2 separate regions of the Homo sapiens genome follow, and region 1 is linked to region 2. The links come from fine-mapping of genetic effects on gene expression. Tissue or cell type: whole blood. Region 2 holds a variant in brackets; the other region holds the start of a gene. All regions are shown on one strand. Distances are from middle to middle.

The links. PIP is the estimated chance that this variant, and not a neighbour inherited with it, causes the effect.
Region 1: NRBF2 starts here. The variant in region 2 is fine-mapped to the expression of NRBF2 in whole blood (INTERVAL, PIP above 0.99).

The regions. Positions count from the first base shown.
Region 1 is chr10:63,129,572-63,137,678 of GRCh38, reverse strand. It overlaps NRBF2 (nuclear receptor binding factor 2), which reads right to left and starts at 4,351. Exons shown (of 4, transcript NM_030759.5): 1 at 4,179-4,351. The coding sequence starts at 4,208. RefSeq lists silencers at 3,805-4,074, 4,285-4,534.
Region 2 is chr10:63,317,478-63,325,584 of GRCh38, reverse strand. All of the region lies in intron 2 of JMJD1C (jumonji domain containing 1C), which reads left to right. Among named protein-coding and RNA genes, the nearest start is that of MIR1296, 52 kb to the left of the region's middle. The variant ATT/T (reference allele first, on the strand shown) is at 4,542.

The sequences.
Region 1 (8,107 bases), 190 kb after region 2:
CCATGATATCTGACTACTTTTCTTACAGAAGCTGGAAAGTAAGAGGCTTCATTAACTACCTCATGTGATGTGAGAACTGACCACTCTGGAGGGAAGCTGTTACTCAACAAACATTCTCAGCACTCTTAAGGGCTAAACACATAGAAAACGATTGTGGCCAGGCAGTCACATGGACCCTGCCCTTTGCAGCAGAGGTAAGCAAAACATGAGCAACAGCCACATATAAATTAAGATCTGACATCACTTTCCAAATCAGCAGCAAACAAACCAAAGAACTAGAAATTATCTCACAAGAGTTTTGACATTTGTTACCAGTAGTCACACTGACAAAATGTGTACGGAAAGAAATATCTAAATATACACTAATTTTATAAGTTATAATTTTTCCATATTTAAAACTGACAGGCTGGGCACAGTGGCACATGCCTGTAATCCCAACACTTTGGGAGGCTGAGACAGGAAGATTGCTTGAGGCCAGGAGTTCAAGACCAGCTTGGGCAACACAGCAAGACCCCATCTCCACAAAAAGTTTTTGAAAAAATTAGCTGGGCATGGTGGTGCAAACCTGTAGTCCCAGCTATTGTGGAGGGCTCAGGCAGGAGGATCCCTTGAGTGTGGGCAACAGAGTAAGACCCTGTCTCTTAAAGAAAAATTGACCAAAAAACCCTAATGAAACAAAGTTATTCAGAGTGCAAAGACTAGCTATTTTTTTCTTCAGTGGAAGTACAATTTTTCTTTTGACAAACTTCAATAACCAGATAATTAGAATCCATTACCTCTGTGGTACATATTAAAATGAATATTTCAAACTAGTCTCTTCCAGATCTTAAAAATTCACTGTGAGGAATTTCTAAGGCCCTTACTGCCAAACCTAACATAAAAGAATCAATACTGGAGCAGAGGTAATAAATGCTAACACAGAATCTACAGTTCAATATAGATGAGAACCATACTGAAATGAACATGATGAGTACAATATGGCAGCATTGCTAGAAAGAGGTCTTGATATCAAAATAACTCGTGATTCATAATGTATTTAAGTTACTGACCTAAGTAATTACCTAATTCTCTCAGCTTAGGCTTATTTATCTGTAAAACTGGAAAACACACCTTACTAAGTTCCGAGGATGCTCTGAGGACACATGATTACAAATCCATGTACTGTGATAAGTCCTTATACAATGAATTTGGACTACACTACGACGTCATTTGACAAAGCTTATTGCATTAGTAACTCTCTGAGTATAGAAAAAGAAAAAGCTTGTATAATACTAGTGGAATTTTCAAAGACATTCAAATTATAGCATTGAGAACTCTCATCTTGAGTCAACTAGATACTAAGTTAGGTGTTCACTGACATAAAAGAATGTCAGAATTTTCATAGCCGGGCAGGGTGGTGCATGCCTGTAATCCCAGCTACTCAGGAGGCTGAGGCAGAGAACTGCTTGAACCCGGGAGGTGGAGGCTGCAGTGAGCCCAGATCGCACCACTGCACTCTAGCCTGGGTGACAAAGCGAGACTCCGTCTCAAAAAAGAAAAAAAAAAAAAAAAAAAGTCTGAATTTTCAAAAACCTCATCTTATAAAACTGTGAGTGACAATTCTGAGTGCCAGAGGCCTGTAATTGGTACTCATTCAAGTAACCGTCAACGTCTGTTCTACTGTTACCTTCCAATAAACAACTATGCTGGAAATTAGATCTTTCAAGACTCAAATGGTTTAAGAATTCAAGGTGTCCGCCGGGCACGCTGGCTCACGCCTGTAATCCCAGCACTTTGGGAGGCCAGGCGGGGGGATCACGAGGTCAGGAGATCGAGACCATCCTGGCCAACATGGTGAAACCCCGTCTCTACTAAAAATACAAAAATTAGCTGGGCGTGGCGGCGCGTGCCTGAAATCCCAGCTACTCAGAAGGCTGAGGCAGAAGAATCGCTTAAACCAGGGAGTCGGAGGTTGCAGTGAGCTGAGATCGCGCCACTGCACTCTAGTCTGGTGACAGAGAGAGACTCCATCTCAAAAAAAAAAAAAAAAAAGAATTCAAGATGCCAAATTTCTGATACTTGCCTACATAAATTTTATGGCTGAAATACGGAGTTACGCTAGCCTGCTTAAAAAGACTCTGTCGAAACTCGCTCCGTTTTATGGAGGAGAATTTAAATGGTATTGCCACCATTTAACTAATTTTTCCTGAACTGGTAGTGATTCTGCAGTTCTATCTGCAACTGTCACCCAGTTCTAGTCTCCTTTTAAAACATCACACATTCGTGGGGCAGTTGGCGGGGGTTATTCTGCAGCCAAATAATGTGAAGCTAACTAGAACTGAACCAATGCTCATTTGGCAAGGACACCTGAACTCTGAAGCACTTCGTAAACAGCTGATTATTTCTAGTAATACTCCTGTGAAGTTTCAGTATTGAGCCATCCACTGTATTTCATTGCCAACTATATGTCGCCTTAAAAACAAGAAAAGTGCAAGACAGTTCCCTGGTTATTTGAGTCAGAGTCTCGCTCTGTCGCCCAGGTTGGAGTGCAGTGGCACAATCTCGGCCCACTGCAACCTCCACCTCCTGGGCTCAAGCGATCCTGCCACCTCAGCCTCCCGAGTAGCTGGGACCACAGGCGGGCGCCACCACGCCAGGCTATTTTTGTATTTTTTGTAGAGACCGGGTTTCGCCATGTTGCCCAGGCTGGTCTCGAACTTCTAAGCTCAAGTGATTCGCCCGCCTCGGCCTCCCAAAGTGCTGGGATTACAGGCGTGAGCCCCGGCGCCTGGCCAGTTCCCTGGTTAAAAAAAACTCGCAAATGTAGTCCAATTCGTCTTAAGTGTAAATACCTACCACCTGGGGCAAGACCCAACTTAAAAGGGAGGGGCGCCTCACAACAGTTAACCTGGCACCAGTGATTTGGTCCGAGAATCTTAGGCTTTTAAAGCTCAAGTCCAAACCTTTATTCTACAAATAGATTTTAAATTAAGGGCTTATGGTCTGGTTATAATCGCTAACTCTTACACTGTACTATGTACTTAGTACAGTTCTAAGTGCTTTACACCTATTTACTCCTTTAATCCTCCCAAAAAACCTGAAGCCGAGTGAAGCCAAGTAGTTTGCCCAAGGTAACACAGATATCAAGTGACGAGGTTAGAATTCAAATCCAAGCAGCATAGCTTCAAAACCTAGAGTCTTAAACCACCTGACTCTACTGCTCTTCTAGGACTCAGAGTTCTAATGTGAGAAAAGAATCCTCTATAGAGCTTTCTTTCAATTCCACCATCGCAAATGAATTGCAAACCTGTGACTCAAAAGTTCTTCCTGTGTGCAACCTTAAGTAATCTGACTTTTACATCCAAAATGGGTAACCTCTCTGGAAAACTAAAAGATGCAATGGCCAGTCTGAAAAGAACTCATGCTTCCCGTTGTTAGTGGGGTTCTGTTGTGTTGTTTTTTAATTGCAACACCTGAAACGCCTTAAAACACAAGTAAACAGGCTATCAGCCATTTTCCTGAGAACAGCAAACACCTATTACACTTTCATGATGCCTAAATTGATGAATCTGAGCTAAATACAGGAACGGCTGTCTTTTTCCCAGCTGTCTCTAATATATTTGGAAGACGGTAGACTCAGTTTATGCATGTGAATGTATGTGAGAAATGAGGGGGAAGTGGAGGGTGAGGAGGGGGAAGTGGAGGGTGAGGAGGGGGAAGTGAAGGGTGAGGAGGGGGAAGTGGAGGGTGAGGAGGCTATTCACTCCTCCACCTCTCCAAAGCGGGGCGACTCAGACTCAGACCCTGCTGCTAGAACTTAAAACCAGTATCACACCATTTCTGCCTTGGCCGGCTTCAGTGCCTCTCCAGGCTGTAGGGAGGTGGCTACGTGGCGCTAAGAGGACTTCCCCCAGCCAGAGAGGAGGTGGCAGCCCCAGGTGGTGGCATCCCCTCGCCCGGGGCCCCGCGACAGGGGGCGCCAGGACTTCCCGGGGATCCCCCAGGAGGGCAAAGTCTGAAGTGGCTAGCCTGGAGCCGCAGTTGGGCCAGGGCCTGCCTAGCAGCCCCTCACAGCCTCTGCGACCACTCCTGCCAAACCAACCTCCCAGCCTAAAGGGTTAGCCGACGCGCCGGGGACGGGGCCGGGCTCCTGAGGCAAAGGCACCCAAGACGAACGCTATATTCTGTGGGACACTCACCAGGTTGAGGGGTCCTTCCATTACTTCCATAGACCCCGGGGTAAGCGGCGGCCTTAGGAAGGGGAGTAGTGGCGCCGGGGAACATGGAGGGGACTGCAAGGGAGCTCGACGCAGCCGCGGAGACTGCGGCCCCTCTCTGCGCCCCAAGAGCCAGCGATAGGCGCTGAAGGAGCAACAACCTCACCACTTCCTCCTCCGGCGCCGCGCCGCGGGCCCGCCCCCTGCGCCACCGCCGAGGCCACGCACGGCGCCATGACGTCACACGCGCAAAAGGCTGGTTCAAGGTGGGAATGAGGACAGGCAGTGGGTGGGGCCCAGGGAAGGCGGGGCACCAGCTGATGTACGCTTGCGAGCGGTCAATCTTTCCTCTCGCGAGAAGCGTTAGTTTAGGTTCTTAAAGTCTACACTGAAGTCACGTGAGGAGGTACAGCCTTGCTGTTGAAGACTTGAAATGGCTGTCTTCTGCAATTAGCTTCTCACGTTTCCTTTTAGACTGACTTTTCCTTAAATCTGCTAATCGTTACACCGTTACTTGTGGTCCTGTCCACACCTTTATCATTGTACATGATTCATTTTTTCAAAAGGCCGATTTGAGCAATTCTAGACCATGCACTGGACTAACCCCCCTAGAGGTCAGCACACTCGAATGATTTAGGGCTCTGCCCTCAAGTTGCTCACAAACTGATAGGGAAACAATTTTGGTCTAGCCAAATATAATACTGCATTCATTTAACAATTATGTGCCAAACAAAAGCTAGGTTCGTTCTGTCATGGAATTCACTGACAAATAGTTGTGATTTATGCTGGAAAGGGAACACATAGGGAGCTGTGATAGAGTAACCAAGGTGGAGTTGGGTGGTAAAGGAAAGCCTTTCATGGGGGGCGTGATTTTTTTTGAGAAAGTGTCTTGCTGACGCAATCTCCACTCACTGCAACCTCCCTCTGCCCGCCCCCTGCCCCAGGCGATCCTCACACCTCAGTCTCTTAAGTAGCTAGGAACTACAAGTGCTCAGGCCAGGTTAATTTTTGTATTTTTTGTAGAGATGGGGTTTCGCCATGTTGCCTATGCTGATCTTGAACTGCTGAGCTCAAGTGAGCTCAATGATCCGCCCTCCTGGACCTCACAAACTGATGGGATTATAGGCATGAGCTACCGCACCTGGCTAAGGGCGTAATCTTTAAGATTAAACCTTAAAATGCCAGTTAAACAAAGACCCTTCTCGACAAAGGAAATGTCTTATGCCTCAACTCTAAAGGCGGGGAGGTCGGGTGGCGGGAGCTGCAGCATTTCAGAGAGATGCAAAAGAAGATACCAGAGAGATAGGAAACTTCCAAAACATAGGTGTCCTTGCAGTGCACAATGAAACATTTGAATTTTACTCAAAGTGCATTGGGAAATAAGTAAAGGATATTAAGCTAGAGAATAATCTGCTTTAATTTACAGTTTTGAAAAGATTAATTTCCCTGTAATGTGAAGAATAGATTGTGGAAGGCCTAAGGAAAAAGAACCAAGACAAGCTAGTTGATTGACTAATTATGGGCGCTCAGACTGGAATGGAAGTAGGGAAGATTGGGTCATGCATCCACTCATTACATAGTTATCATGTTTCTACCATGTGCCGGAAACCTTGGAAGAGAAGTAGATATATTCAAGATATATTTTTGGGCATCAGGTTGAGAGGAGTTAGTGATGGAATGGCAGTAAAGCATACAGAAAATGGAAGAATCAAATCTCGTATTTAAACAACCAAGTGGCCTAGCACACTGGCTCACCCCTGTAATCCCAGCTCTTTGGGAGGTCAAGGAGAGCAGATCACTTGAGGCCAGGAGTTTGAGACTGGTCTGGCCAACGTGGTGAAACTTCATCTCTACTAAAAGCACTAAAACGTAGCCAAGTGTGGTGGCGCGTGCCTGTAATCCCAGCTACTGGGGAGACTGAGGCAGGAGAATTGCTTGAACCTGGAAGGCAGAGGTTGCAGTGAGCTGAGACCAATCACACCACTGCATTCCAGCCTGGGTGACACAGAGAGACTCTGTCTCTAAAAATAAAAAAATAAAAAAGTAAACAACCAAGTGGACAAGATAGTGAGAGACAGGACTAGCTGGATTTCCTAGGCCAACTAAGAATTCCTAAACCTAGCTGGGGAAGGTGACCACACCCACATTTAAACACAGGGCTTGTAACTCAGTTCACACCCGACTAATCAGGTAGTAAAGAGGGCTCACTAAAATACAAATTAGGCTAGAAGCAGAAGGTAAAGAAATAGTCAAATCATATATCGCCTGAGAGCACAGGGGGAGGGACAATGATCAGGATATAAACCCAGGCATTCGAGCAGGGAGTGGCAACCCCCTTTGGGTCCCCTCCCATTGTATGGGAGCTCTGTTTTCACTCTATTAAATCTTGCAACTGCACACTCTTCTGGTCCATGTTTGTTACAGCTTGAGCTGAGCTTTCACTCACCGTCCACCACCGCTGTTTGCTGCCATCACAGACCCGCCGCTGACTTCCACCCCTCTGGATCCATCAGGGTGTCCACTGTGCTCCTGATCCAGCGAGGCGCCCATTGCTGCTCCCAATCGGGCTAGAGGCTCGCCATTGTTCCTGCAAGGCTAAGTGCCCAGGGTTTGTCCTAATCGAGCTGAACACTAGTTGCTGGGTTCCACGGTTCTCTTCTGTGACCCACGGCTTCTAATAGAGCTATAACACTCACTGCATGGCCCAAGGTTCCATTCCTTGGAATCCGTGAGGCCAAGAACCCCAGGTCAGAGAACAAAAGGCTTGCCGCCATCTTGGAAGTGGCCTGCCACCATCTTGGGAGCTCTAAGAACAAAGACCCCCTGGTAACAATAGGAAGGAGCTAATTTGTATGGAAAATGAAAAGTTCTATCTTGGGCACTGTATTAATTTCCTATGACTGCTGTAAGAAGTTACTACCCATTTAGTGGATTAAAACAACAGAAATTTGGAGGCTAGCAGTTCTGGAGGCTAGAAGACCAAAATAATTTTTTTTTTTTTTTGAGACGGAGTCTCGCTCTTTCACCCAGGCTGGAGTGCAGTGGCTCGATCTTGGCTCACTGCAGGCTCCACCCCCGGGGTTCACGCCATTCTCCTGCCTCAGCCTCCCACATAGCTGGGACTACAGGCGCCTGCCACCTCGCCTGGCTAATTTTTTGTATTTTTAGTAGAGACGGGGTTTCACCGTGTTAGCCAGGATGGTCTCGATCTCCTGACCTCGTGAATCACCCTCCTCGGCCTCCCAAAGTGCTGTGATTACAGGCGTGAGCCACCATGCCCGGCCAAGACCAAAATAATTTCATAGCGCCAAAACAAAGGTATACAGCAAGGCCTTGCCCCCTTCTTTTCCAGCCTCTGGAGCTACATTCTTTGCATTCCTTTGACTCACAGCCCCTTCTTCCATCTTCAAAGCCAGCAGCACTGCATCTTCAAAGCTCTTGCTGCTTTTGTCATGTCATTTCCTCTTAAAATCCTTCTGCCTCCCTCTAGTAAGGACCCTGTGAATACATTTGGTCCACAAAATAGTTAAAGATAGTCTTCCTATCTCAAGGTTAACTTAATCATACCTACAAAGTCCCTTTGCCATATGAGGTAACATTCTCAGCTTCCACAGATTAGGACCTGGGTATCTTTCGGACCATTATTGAGACTACCAGAGGCATTGTATCTAAAGCAAATCAATGACATACTCAAAATAATCCCAGAAGGGTTTAATAAACGGACTGTTTTACAAAGGTGTGGCCAGAGTTTAGGTATTTACATGAGAAAAGCAATAACTCCTAGGCTATAAAGAAAGAAATAGAAGGGGCTGGGTACAGTGTCTCACACCTGTAATCTCAGCACTTTTGGGAGGTGGAGGCAGAGGTGGGCGGATCACTTGAGGCCAGGAGTTCAAGCCCAGCCTGGCCAA
Region 2 (8,107 bases):
TTTAGGCTCTAGATACAGAAAAGAGAGGTCCAAAGAGCCAGAAATTGACATTGCTTATTTAAACACTGTCGGAGGAATTAGCTGGGTGGGTGGTGTGTGCCTGTGGTCTCAGCTACTCCAGAGGGTGAACTGGATAAAAATTGATTGAGCGCGGAGATTGAGGCTGCAGTGAGCTGTGATCTCCTCACAGCACTCCATCCTGGGTGACAGAGCCAAACTCTTGTCTCAAAACAAAACAAAACAAAAAACCAAAACACTGAGGTAGAAGAAACCCTATTCTAGTATTCTTGGGCTTATTATTCCCCTGTTTTACGTCATTTGTGTTTATCAAGTAATATTTTGATTTAGCTTTCCTAAGGAAAAGTTTGTATTATTTGTTAATCCCCATGCTTTCTACACTAATTAACAGCTAATAATTATCATTTTAAAGTAATAAATTTGCATTCTGGTTTATATATCAGTAGCTATGAGCTTGATTACTAAGTTTGTCCCTAATAGGACATCTAGTCTCAGTATGCTTACAAAATCAGATATCTGAGTTTGTAATATTAAGAATTAGACTATATATATCTTTGTCATTTTATGAGAATAAAGGCCACCTATGATGGCTTTAGGTAGATAGCCAGCTGACAGTAAAAATGTATGTTTGGTTTGTATGAAGCAAGCTAAGGATTTCATGACTCCAGCAATTTACAATTTAACTCAAAATCTAGCTGAAAGCCTAGTTCAAGTTCTGTCTTTTCTATTAAATGTTTTCTGATTAGACTTACATGCAGTGACTACCCAGTATAAACCACCACCCTGGAACCTCTTTTCTTCCCGAAAATGCTTATTTTTCTCTAAATCACTTATCACCATCTGACATACACGTTTACTTGTTTATTGCCATTTCTACACTCACACAGGATTATGAGCTCTATAGGTAGGAGTTTTGTTAACACACTGCTTTGACTTTGTGGTTACCAGTGCTTGTCACATATCAAGTTCTTAAGAAGCATTCATTGAATGAAGGAATCTGTTTAATTCTGAATCTTTCTTTCCTCTAGGCTTCTTTGTTTATAAGTTGTAGTCAATATAGAATAATACAGGGTTTGTATTGTTTGATGTGTATAAATCTGATCTCCGTCTGCAGGAACTTTCTTGGAGCAAGGGCCTAACTTTGTACTATTATCTCCTCCACAGAATCTTAGTTGGCATTTGTGTTTGATCTCTTGATTTAGATAGACACGAGTTTGATTTTTGGTTTAGCTGTTTACTTACTTTTGTGACAGTAGGTAACTTTTCTGAACCTTGGTTTCTCTGTTTTAAGGATATACGAGATAGTGTTGGTTGAGGACTGTGATGGTTCATTTTATGTTGTAAGCATGACTGGGCCACAGGATACCCAGATCCTGGTAAGATATTATTTCTGACTGTGTCTGTGAGGGTGTTTCCGAAGAGATTAGCATTTGAGCTAGTAGACTGAGTAGGGAAGGACCACCCTTATCCATTTGGGCAGATATTGTCCATCCTTTGGGGGCCCACATAGAAAAAAAAAAAAAAAAAGGCAGACGAAGGATGAATTGGCTCTTTCTGAGCTGGAACATCCTTGTCTCCTGCTTTCAGATGTGGGTGCTCCTGGTTCTTCATTTTTCAGACTTGAACCAAGACACACCACTGGCTTTCCTGTTTCTCCAGCTTGTGGGCTGCAGATCATGGGATTTTGGCTTTCATAATCATATGAGATAATGAGCCTATATATATATATGTATACACACACACATATGCAAACACACAGAGAAACACACACAAATATGCTCACACTCTATTGGTCCTGTTTTTGTGGAGAACTCTAATACAAAGACATTTGAAGATTGAGAGAATGCACAAGATGGCCCCCGCAGGCCATTGTACTAGCCATCTCATTTTATATCACATCTAAGTATGCCTTGAATTTTTTTAGTTTTATGTACCTGGCCTTATTGTGCTCTTATCAGTATGACTTCTGGTTTTTGAATGGATAACATTGTTTTATAACTTGTGCTTCAGAAAATACCAGTGCTGTTTCTTTCCCCCCTTTCTTTTTTTGAAACAGTCTTGCTCTGTCACCCAGGGTGGAGTACAGTGGCGCGATCTTGGCTCACTGCAACCTCAGCCTCCTGGGTTCAAGTGATTCTTCTGCCTCACCCTCCCGAGTTGCTGGGATTCCAGGTGCGTGCCACCAAGCCTAGTTTTTGTATTTTTAGTAGAGGTGGGATTTCACCATGTTGGCCAGGATGGACTCAAACTCCTGACCTCAAGTGATCTGTCTGCCTTGGCCTCCCAGAAGTGTTAGGATTACAAGTGTGAGCCACTGTACCCGGCACCACTGTTGTTTCTAGGCTTAATTAATTTGTTGTGGCCAACAGGCTTTTCCTTGTGTTTCAGCTTTAGCACTACCTGTCCATCATAGCTGTCATTACAGCTTTGTTGACTTTACTGTCTCGCATACTCTTACCCAGTGCTGCTTTGGTCTTGCCCAAGGCGGCAGTTCTTTCCTTTTCTCTCTTCTCTACTTTTTGTTCAACATTATCTAATTTTCATATATAGATCTATGTATGTATATGTTAAATTTTTATATATATTAAATACTTTTCCCAGCTCTGCCTCTGTATTTATGACTAGATACGTAAACAATTGTTAATATACATCAATATATATTAATTACATTAATATTAACATTTGATATAGATTCTGTTCTTTCCTCAACTGTGCCTTGACAAACTTAGGAAAAAAAAAAAAGTTTTTTTTTTTTTTTTTTTTTGAGATGGAATCTCACTCTGTTGCCCAGGCTGGAGTCCAGTGGTGCGATCTTGGCTCACTGCAACCTCTGCCTTCCAGGTTCAAGCAGTTCTCCTGCCTCAGCCTCCCTAGTAGCTGGGACTACAGGAGCGCGCCACTAATTTTTGTATTTTTAGTAGAGACGGGGTTTCACCATGTTGGTCAGGCTGGTCTTGAACTCCAGACCTTGTGATTCTCCCTCTTCGGCCTCCCAAAGTGCTGGGAGTACAGGTGTGAGCCACCGTGCCTGGCCAGAAAATTTTTTAACAATTCAAATAAGTGTAAAAAGTTAAACCCTATTCTATCTTAATTTCTTGCATTTTGTATTTTACAATTTAGCAGCTTTAAAATCATCGTACTGAGTCCCTTCCACCTAAGTCACTTTCCATCTCTTGCGCTCATAATATACTGCAGGTTGGCATATACCTTTTAACTAAGAGTTTAGAGGGGGATTTTGTCTTTGTAGAAATCTGAATTTTCCAGAGGAAAAAAATTCTGAAAATTTAGAGTCCTTAGGTGAGATCCTCAGTAAACTGACATCCACTCATTTTAATAATATTCTTTTCTCTTTTATGTAAATTGATAACCAAGGCATGTGCAACATTTGAAAAGAGCTTTCCCAACATGAGAGAGAATAAACATGTAGGAAAAAAAGAATAGCCAGGAAAATACAAGGAACTGTTTTGAAAGCTTTGGGGGAAAATCCTCTTAATATACTCAGATGAGAAGATATTTCATCATTACAATGAATGAACTGGTTTAGATTCCTTAAAAGACATTCAAGAAGTGTGACTTTTGGCTTCCTCACCCAAGGTCAGCTTCAGCAGTTAGAAGGGAAAACTAAATGTTCTGAGCAAATGGTGAGAAATCCCCTAGGTTGGTGGAAGAAAGGCTGTTTTGAACTGGTGTGTGGAATAGAGAAGCTTTGTCCCAGGTCAAGAGAGAGGGCATCCTCTTGGCTATCAGAAGAAAAAATAGGAAAGGAACTATTGAAGCTCTTCACGCCTTTGAAGCAAAGGTGCCTAACTCGCGTACACTTGTAAAGTATCAGACCTTTGATATTTTGAGGAGTCAATTCAGGATAGTGCAGAGGCCCTTTCCTTCTGAGTGGATTTAAAAAATGAACTTTTGCTTCCCTACCTCTTACCCAGACAGTTCTCAGTGCTAATACGCTATAGTTGGTAAGAGATGCAGGAAAAACCAAACCAAATTGTTTTTTCCACTGTCGACTCAACACAACACTTCTGACACCAGATGTGTTGGGGTATTTTCTTACACACCTAGCAGATCTCCAGCAGACATGAGCTGGATATCCTCCAACTGAATTATTTTTTCACGCTGTCTACCTACAGCTAGCGTCAGATCCCACTGATTGAGGACTCAATCTCACAAGACTGCCTCCCACTTCAGATGACAATCGCAAGTAGTAGGTTGTCACCTATACTTCTGACTGAGCAGCTATAAAATTCACTGATCAGCTATAGACCAGCTCCTTCTCATGTTCAATTAGTTTGCTAGAGCAATTCACAAAGGTCAGAGAAACACTTTACTTATTATGTTTACCGATTTATTACAAAGAATATTTTAAAGGATACAAATGAATAGCCAGATGAAGATACATGGGATGGGATCTGGAAGGGTCCAGAGAACAGGAACTTTCATCCCTGTGGAGTTTGTGTGTGCCACCCACCTGGCACGTGGATGTGTTCTTGTACACCAGTCTGGAACCTCATTCAAACTCT[ATT/T]TTTAGGGGGTTTTATGGAGACTTCATTACATAGGCATCATTGATTATATAATTGGCCATTGTTGATCAACTCAATTCAGCCCCTCTCCTCTCCCTGGAGGTCTGGGGTGGGGCTATGAACTTTCCAACTCTCTAAACACATGGTTGGTTCCCTTGGTAACAAGCACCATCCTGGGGCTATCTAGAAGCCCACCAAGATTGCCTCATTAGAACAAAAGAGTCTTCTGTCACCTAGGAAATTCCTAGGGATTTAGGAGCTCGGTGTCAGGAACCAGGAGTCAAAGGACAAATATTAGAACAAAAGATTCTCCTAGTGCCTGTATCTACAAGGATTTTAGAAGCTGTATGTCAGGAAATGGAGACAAAAAACAAATATATATTTCATGTTATCACAATAGTCGAAGAAGAGTCTCCATTTAGATGCTTTAACATGTGAAAAAATAGTGAAGCTACTTTCCCAAGGAATTGTTTTGAGAAAAGATGAGAGATTGTAGTTTTCTGCTGCCTGGAATATTCCACCTTAGGTATTTTCCACCTGTATGTCTTGAGCTCAATGGGGCTGACAGTGATTGTGGGCTGACATCGTCTATATACATTGCTTAAATGTATTTTCCTAGAAGAAAATGAGCACACAGACCAAATAAAACATTCAAAGGAAAGAAAAATAATATACTGGATTACAGATGCCATTAGTAGTAGAAATACTAGATTAGACAAATGATGAATATAAAATTATCCTAATAAATGTATTAAAAATATTAGAGGAAGATAATATGAAATAAAATCTAAAAGAAAAAATTACTCAATATCAAAAACATAATACAAAATGTAAGATATGCTGGGCATGGTGGTTCACTCCTGTAATCCCAGCACTTTGGAAAGCTGAGGTAGGCGAATCACTTGAAGCCAGGAGTTCAAGACCAGCCTGGCCAACATGGTGAAACACCATCTCTACTAAAAATATAACAATTAGTTGAGTCAGGCATGGTGGCTAATGCCTGTAATCCAAGCGCTTTGGGAGGCTGAGGCGGGTGGATCACCTGAGGTCAGGAGTTTGAAACCAGCCTGGCCAACATGGTGAAACCCTGTCTCTACTAAAACTACAAAAAAATTAGCTGGGTGTGGTGGCATGTGCCTGTAATCCCAGCTACCCAGGAGGCTGAGGCAGGAGAATTGCTTGAACCTGGAGGTGGAGGTTGCAGTGAGCCAAGATAGCACCACTGCATTCCAGCCTGGGCAACAGAGCGAGACTCTGTCGTGGAGAAAACAAGCAAACAAACAAAAAGATGAATAACAGAATTGATCTATTTGAAGAACAAAATTGTTAATTGGAAGATTAAAGAGAATATTTCACGGGGATAAAAGGACAAGGAAATAGCAAATATAAAAGAAAAATTGACAGCTATCAAATACAGAAATAAAGGTATTGACATCCAGAAGATAGGAATCTAAGAAGGGAGATAATTTTTTTTAAGTGGAGAATAAATACTTAAAGGGATAAAAGGGATAGTTTTCTAGAATTAAAGTGAGAGAGAAAAGAGAGAGGTGAGAAATTTCAGATTAAAAGGAGTTCAGAGTCAAGAGAGAAGAAAGAAACACAACATACGTTAAAGTTAAAATATAAGACTGCCAGAGATAAAGAAAATGCTAAAGACTTGCAGAGATGAGGGAAAAAAAAAAGTCACAAACAAATGAAGAAGAATTAGATTGGCATCACACTTTTTCAGCAGTAACTCTTGAATGTAAGCAGAAAATGTATTAGCTTTTTTTTTTTTTTTTTTTTTTTAGATGGAGTCTCGCTCTGTCGCCCAGGCTGGAGTGCAGTGGCGCAGTCTCAGCACACTGCAAGCTCCGCCTCCGGGGTTCACGCCATTCTCCTGCCTCAGCCTCCCGAGTAGCTGGGACTACAGGCCACCACCACACCCGGCTAATTTTTTGTATTTTTAGTAGAGACGGTGTTTCACCATGTTAGTCAGGATGGTGTCGATCTCCTGGCCTTGTGATCCGCCCACCTTGGCCTCCCAGAGTGCTGGGAGCATTTTTTAAGGTTTGAAGAGAACCTAGATTTTAAATCCCACCAAGTTGTCATTCAGATATTAAAGCCATAATAAAAATTTTTATCAAGAATACAGATACCAGAAGGTTTTTCAAACCTTAATATTAAAAATAAGTTTAGATGAGGCACTGAAATGAGCAGACCCATTTAAGGAAACGTTGAAAGAGATAAATGAAGTGAAGATGATGAAATACATTGGTTAGTGAAGCTAACCAAAGTATAGAGAAAATATGTCCATATTAACCCTGAACCTAAAAGTCTAGGTCAGTACTTCTCAAATTATCTATGCCAAAGAAACTTTTTTTTTTTAAATTCCAGTTTGTTTAGAAAATCACAAGTATTGATGTCCCAGGAATGTTGAACTTACGTAAGAGTTCTGGACATGTTATTATCAGTTCGTATATTTTTGGACCAGTAACAGAATATTTAAAGGAGCAAACAACAGAAACAGATGCAATAATGACAGAATGAAGGAAATGGCAGAAAAGGGCATGATTATAATATACTCAGTATACTCAAGGATTTAAAGTAAAACATTAACATAAGAGAAATGTAAAATATAAAAAAGACTCAAATGAACATTTAGAGGTGAACAACACAAATGAAATCACTGGATGGTGATTTCAAGATATTAGACATGGGAAAAGAAAAGATCAAGCTGGGGGTGGTGGCTGACACTTGTAATCCCAACATGTAATGCCAACACTTTGGGAGGCCAGGATAGGAGGATTCCTCGAGTCTAGGAGTTCAAGACTAGCCTGGGCAACATAAGGAGACACCATCTCTACAAAAAAGTTAAAAATTAACAAAAATTAGCTGGGCGTGTTGGCAGGCACCTGTAATTCCCAGCTACTTGGGAGCCTGAGATGCCAGAATTACCTGAACTTGAGGCAGAGGTTGTAGTGAGTCGAGATGGCACCGCTGCACTCCAGCCTGGGTGATAGAGCCAGACCCTGTCTCCAAAAACAAAACAAAACGAGCGTGGTGGTGCATGGCTATACTCTCAGCTACTTGGGAGGCTGCTGAGGCAGGAGGATCACTTGAGCCTTGGAGGTTGGAGTGGCAGTGAGCCGTGATCGTGCCACTGCATTCCAGCCTGGTTGACAGAGCAAGGCCCTGTCTCGAAAAGAAAAGAAAAAAGATCAGTGACCTTTAATGTAGCAATAGAAACAATGCAAAATGAAGCACAGATAGAATAGATGGGATGGGGGGCGACGGGGCACACTGAATAGAATTTCAGTGGCCTTTGGAATGATATCAAATATTTATGTATGCACCATTGGCATTCTGGTGTTGGAGGAGGGTGCAAGGACAAGGAGGCAGCCAGTGAAAATATTTGATTAAATAATGTACGAAATGTTTTCATATTTGCAAGAACATTATAAACATGCAGAGTCAAGAATCTTAAAGAATTGCAAACAATGGGAATGATTGTGTGTGTGTGTGTGTAGTAGGCTTAGGAGGATGAGAGAAGTTGATTAATCAGTAGAGACATACATTCAAATAGA